2 separate regions of the Homo sapiens genome follow, and region 1 is linked to region 2. The links come from fine-mapping of genetic effects on gene expression. A gene starts in region 2. The other region holds a variant in brackets. All regions are shown on one strand. Distances are between the middles of the regions. Region 1 overlaps ADISSP (adipose secreted signaling protein). Region 2 holds the start of CDC25B (cell division cycle 25B).

Region 1 (2,902 bases), 35 kb before region 2:
CCGCCACTCACGCTCAGCAGCCTCCCATGCTCCAGGGACACCAGCGGGAGCCTGAAGGATAGGGAGTGGGGAGGGCAGGGGTCAGGGCCACTCATGGACCCATGGCTCAGGGACACCAGAGGAGCTCCCTTTAGGAAGGACTCAAACCCCTACCGCTCTCAGCAGCCCAAGTGGTGCCTGTACTCTCTAGCACGGGGGCTTCTGCCCACCCTCTACCGACTGCCCACATTCACCAAGAGCCCTCACCCCTTCCTGATACCCCAGTGACTCAGGGTCCTGCCAGCATGTGCTGAGCTGCAGCTTCTAGGTGCCAAAGCAACAGCATAGGACTCCTATCCCCAGCACCCCCAGAGACTGGCAGGAGGGGCAGCCTGGAAAGGAGGACTTTATTGGTATTTTCCAGGGACCAGTTCTGGTGCTGCTGACCCCAAAGGCTGGGCCTGGAGCTACCTTATTCAGGTCACACAAGCAATGCAGCTGGGTGCGGTCAGAGGCAACAGGGTGCTCGATGGTGGGCAAGAACAGGGGACCACATAAAGTAAGCGTGCCCTTAGAGCTTTCCCTCCTGGTGATCGGTCAGGGCCATATGCAAAACAGATGCCTGTGGAGGGGGTGTGCCCCCACCTGAACCCCATTCAGACCCTGCCCTGAGTCTCAGGCCTGCCTCCGCCTCAGCTCCCCAACGGCAGCCTCAGCACAGGGGCAGTGAGAGGCGCCCCAGGAAGCCTCCAATGGGCCGAGCTGGGACCATCTGAGCATCAAAAAGAATAATGAGTGCAACTGATGGAAACAGATGGAACACATAAAAGCAGTGCATTCACAGAGATTATTAGAAAAGAAGAGAGAAAGCAAAACAAACAAACCCAAGCCCTCAAAAGCCCTCATTTGTCACCACTGACGGTAGCAGTGCCCTCTTTACTCTGAAAGCTGAGGATTAAAGAGGAAGAATTCAGCCTGTCTCTTGGCCTTTCTTGTAACCAAATTGCCCTGGTGGTTGATGGAAAGCTCTTCTTTCGGAAAGAATTCTTGCTAATAAATAACAAAGAAATGACCAAATGCTAAGTCATTCTGCAACCCCTAAAGGAACAAATGCTGGAGGCAACAAGAACCAGTGGATGCTAAACCAGAGGGGAAGGTTGACAGGAAGCAGATACTCACAGGCGCCCAAGCGTCACTGACAGAGGACCTGGTATGGTTTTTGTTTTTTTTTTTTTTCTGAGACGGAGTTTCACTCTTGTCACCCAGGCTGGGATGCAATGGCACGATCTCGGCTAACTGCAACATCTGCCTCCTGGGTTCGAGCGACTCTCCCACCTCAGCATCCCGAGTAGCTGGGACTACAGGCGCCCGCCACCACGCCTAGCTAATTTTTGTATTTTTAGTAGAGACAGGGTTTCACCATGTTGGCCAGGCTGGTCTCGAACTCCTGACCTCAAGCAATCC[G/A]CTCACTTCGGCCTCCCAAAGTGTTGGGATTACAGGTGTGAGCCACCATGCCTGGCCGAGGACCTGGTGTTTAAGAGGAATGGCACAAGTTTGCAATGGAGGTATGTGACTTCTCCCAGTCACACACTGGTCTATCTCTCTACTCTCTGCAGGACAGCCTGTCACACTGATGCCTCCTGAAGTAAGGCAGCCCAAAGTCACAGCATCACTGACAAGGGATTCCTGCCAAAAAGGTTTAACCTGGAATCTAAACCAGCCTCTAACTTCAACTTCTCATTTGCTAAAAACACAGAGGAGAGGGGAACAAATTTAATGACTCCATGAGAAAGCAATGAGACGAGCCCAGAAGGCAGGATATTCTACAGGATGACTGACCTGTTTTTTGTTTTTGTTTTTGTTTTCAAATGTCAAGAAGAAAAAGAAAGCAGGCTGGGAACGGTGGCTCACGCCTGTAATCCCAGCACTTTCACGGATCACAAGGTAAGGAGTTCAAGACCAGCCTGGCCAACATAGTGAAACCCAGTCTCTACCAAAAGTACAAAGATTAGCCGGGTGTGGTGGCGGGCAGCTGTAGTCCCAGCTAGTTGGGAGGTTGAGGCAGGAGAATCACTTGAATCCGGAAGGCGGAGGTTGCAGTGAGCCAAGATCGCGCCACGGCACTTCAGCCTGGGTGACACAGCGAGACTCTGTCTCAAGAAAAAAAAAAAAGAAAGAAGAAAAATAAAACGAGGGAGATTATTCTAGATAGGAAAGCAGCAAACTACAGCTGATTACACAGCTGATGGTAAGGTTGCTGCCTGTTGTGTTTTTGTTTTTGTTTTTGAGACAGGGTCTCACTCTGTCCAGCCCAGGCTGGAGTCCAGCTCACTGCCACCGTAATCTCCCAGGCTCAAGCAATCCTCCCACCCCAGCCTGCCAAGTAGCTGAGACCACAGCCACGCACCACCATGCCCGGCTAATTTTTGTAGAGACAGAGTTGCCCAGGCTGGTCTCAAACTCCGGAGCTTAAGCGATCCACCCACCTCAGCCTCCCAAAGTGCTGGGATTACAGACGTGAGCCGCCAGGCCTGGCAAATAAATTTTTGCAAATAAAGTTTTACTAATAGAACACTACACTTCATTCACTTACATGTTGTCTGTTTTTGCACTAAAACAAAGTTACTTCCAAGTAGTTATGATAGAGACCATATGGCCTGCAAAGTCTAAACCATTTATTATTTGGCCCTTCAGAGCAAAAGTTTGCCAACCCTTGTTCTAGATCAACACACACTTAACAGACCAAAAAAGGATAATCTTCAGGACAACTGACCTGTTTTTTTCACCACATCAGCTGCAAGAAGAAAAATAAAGGAGAGGGTGTTTCGAACTACCTATCAAAGAAGACATTTTGGGGGGTGCCGGGCGCTGCGGCTCACACCTGTAATCCCAGCACTTTGGGAAGCCAAGGCGGGTAGATCAC
Region 2 (2,902 bases):
CACCTTGGCCACCCCTCTCAGGTGGGGCTGGGGTCTTCCCCTACCCTTCAGATGCATTGGCCCACCCAGCCCCCCATCACCAGGCCCTCCCTTTTGCCACCCCCATCCAATGCACCTTGGGTCTGGGTGGCTGGGACTGCACGAGAAGGGGTACTCCTGCCTTGCTGAGCTGCAGCCCGCCCCCCGCACCACCACCCGCCCAGCCAGAGGCCACTTCTAACCTGGGGAGACAGGATGCGAAAGCTGCTCACTACCCACCGGCTTTTGGGTGCAGCCTTCAGGCCTCTTGTTCCAGGAGGCCTGGAAAACGAGCGGGGCTGGAAGGCATTTAGATAATTGGAAGATGGGCCGGGCACAGTGGCTCGTGCGTGTAATCCCAGCACTTTGGGAGGCCTAGGTGGGTGGATCACGAGGTCAGGAGTTCGAGACCAGCCTGGCCAATATGGTGAAACCCCCGTCTCTACTAAAAATACAAACATTAGCTGGGCGTGGTGGCGCGCTCCTGTAGTCTCAGCTACTCGGGAGGCTGAGGCAGAAGAATCGCTGGAACCCGGGTGGCGGAGGTTGTAGTGAGCAGAGATGGCCACTGCACTCCAGCCGGGTTGACAGAGGGAGACTCCATCCCAAAAAAAACAAAACAAAACAAAAAGAAAGATAATTGGAAGCTGCTCCGCTTAAAACGAATGACAAATTCAGCCTCCCTGGTCTGGTCATCAAAGAAACACCAATTAAATAATATGGTGCCATTGGCACCAAGTTAGCCAAATCATCAATGGGCGTGATACTTAATTCGCCTCTCTGGTTGCTGACACCCTCCTCGACCCCCAGCCGCGGAAATCCATTCCTAGTTCCACCGTTTAGAGCCTCTCCTGGGGCTGCCGCGAAAATTGGGCCGGTTGGGGTAACATCTAACCTGGGGTCCCGCGAAAGAGCCCATCAGTTCCGCTTGGGGGCCCCACTGCCCTCCCACCTCCTACGCTGGGCGCTTCTCCTGCGAATGACGTTTTGCTGCTGCTCAGCGCAGCCAGTCGCGGAGGCGGGGAGGCTGCGCGGTCAGAGGCGCCTGGAGCGAGCGAATCCTGGCCCACCGCCTGCCCAACCGCGTGACCTTGATTGAGTTAATGAACTTCACGCCTCAGCGTCCAGGTCTGTAAAATGGGGTGTCTAACGCAGACCGTACAGCCCAGCTGGGTTTAGCAAACTTCCGGGAGCCAGTTGGAGCCTCTCCCCATCCCTAGCGGTGATCCCAGGTGACGACATGCCGCGGGGGGTCCTGCGGAGGCCACCCTAGGGCGTTGCTGCTGCCTTTGGGAGTGTGGAGCTCCAAACCATGTCGCGAGAGGCGGATTTTGGGAGGCCGGGATCCTCGCGCCAGGGGGATGTGCGAGGGTGTGGGATAAATCTTAATTCCTCCGGCCCACCCAAAGCCTGGAAATCCAGCCTCCGCGCCTCTTGCCCTGCGGGCCCCGCCCTCAGTCCCGCCCTCATCTAACCCGCTACCCCATTGGTGGCGTCCGGCGGCGCGGCTGCTGTTATTTTTCGAATATATAAGGAGGTGGAAGTGGCAGCTGCAACTAGAGGCTTCCCTGGCTGGTGCCTGAGCCCGGCGTCCCTCGCCCCCCGCCCTCCCCGCATCCCTCTCCTCCCTCGCGCCTGGCCCTGTGGCTCTTCCTCCCTCCCTCCTTCCCCCCCCCCCCACCCCTCGCCCGCTGCCTCCCTCGGCCCAGCCAGCTGTGCCGGCGTTTGTTGGCTGCCCTGCGCCCGGCCCTCCAGCCAGCCTTCTGCCGGCCCCGCCGCGATGGAGGTGCCCCAGCCGGAGCCCGCGCCAGGCTCGGCTCTCAGTCCAGCAGGCGTGTGCGGTGGCGCCCAGCGTCCGGGCCACCTCCCGGGCCTCCTGCTGGGATCTCATGGCCTCCTGGGGTCCCCGGTGCGGGCGGCCGCTTCCTCGCCGGTCACCACCCTCACCCAGACCATGCACGACCTCGCCGGGCTCGGCAGGTAGGACACCCCAAGGAGGCTGCATATGGGGGTGAGAGGCTAGGTCTGGAGTCCTGGGCCTCCTGGAGAACTGGGCATGGTAGTCGAATCCAGGAGGTGGAGTCCGGGGAGGCATCCTGAGCAGTGGAGAGGTACGCCCTTGTTCCCTCCTAGGGGCCCAGGACATGGGAAGTGAGACCTGGGCTGTGCCCCCCACACCTCCAGGTGACCTGCTCTCAGTCTGCACAAGCCTCTCCAAATCTTCTTTCCCCTCACTCCCTCCTCCCTCATTGTGCCTCCACCACGCTGCCTCCGTAATCTCTGCCCGGATAGCCACCATTTTGCCCCAGGATGGGAATCTCAAGCCTGGAGAGGGAACTTAAGGGTGGCAGAGCCGTGGAGCACTCACACATCCATGCCCCTGCTCCCTCCACCCCAGTTCTGCCCCCAGAATTAAGACAATTAATTAAACACTGATCCTGCTCCCTAAGTCTGCAAGGGGAGAGCTGGGTTGTTCCAGTAGGAGAACCTGGTCTTGGTCCATCCTTCAGGAAGGGTCCTGGAAAGGTGGGGGTCTGACAGTTTAGGGGAAGGCTCTCTGGGGCGGCTCTGCTAGACCACCAACCCTTAGGCTGGCCTCCAGCCAGGCAGCCTTGCTCACACCCTGGGCTCACCTTGCCCTGCTCCTGAGAGGACCTTTCCTAAACCAGTCAACGAAGAGAAGACGCTTTAGGGCCTCTGTAGAATGAACCTTCCTTGACCTGAGAAGAGGGGGCCCTCAGGGCCATTGCTTTCCCGGTGTAGTGTTTCGCTCAGTTCTTTTCTCAGCAAGGGAGTGGGAACGTGGGCTAGCCAGGCCTTGAGCCCCACGTTTACCTTTCTCCTTTCCCGGGTCCCTGTTCCCTTCCCAGCGAAACCCCAAAGA

What was found. PIP is the estimated chance that this variant, and not a neighbour inherited with it, causes the effect.
Region 1: its variant is the best candidate, but not a certain one, in a credible set for the expression of CDC25B in adrenal gland (GTEx, PIP 0.77).

Annotation. Positions count from the first base shown.
Region 1 is chr20:3,760,136-3,763,037 of GRCh38, forward strand. ADISSP (adipose secreted signaling protein) reads right to left here. Exons shown (of 6, transcript NM_001258429.2): 2 at 1-51. Among named protein-coding and RNA genes, the nearest start is that of ADISSP, 6.2 kb to the right of the region's middle. The variant G/A (reference allele first, on the strand shown) is at 1,444.
Region 2 is chr20:3,794,734-3,797,635 of GRCh38, forward strand. CDC25B (cell division cycle 25B) reads left to right here and starts at 1,577. Exons shown (of 16, transcript NM_021873.4): 1 at 1,577-1,998; 2 at 2,889-2,902. The coding sequence starts at 1,799. RefSeq lists enhancers at 573-1,304, 1,215-1,374 and silencers at 1,605-1,674, 1,715-1,894, 1,961-2,168.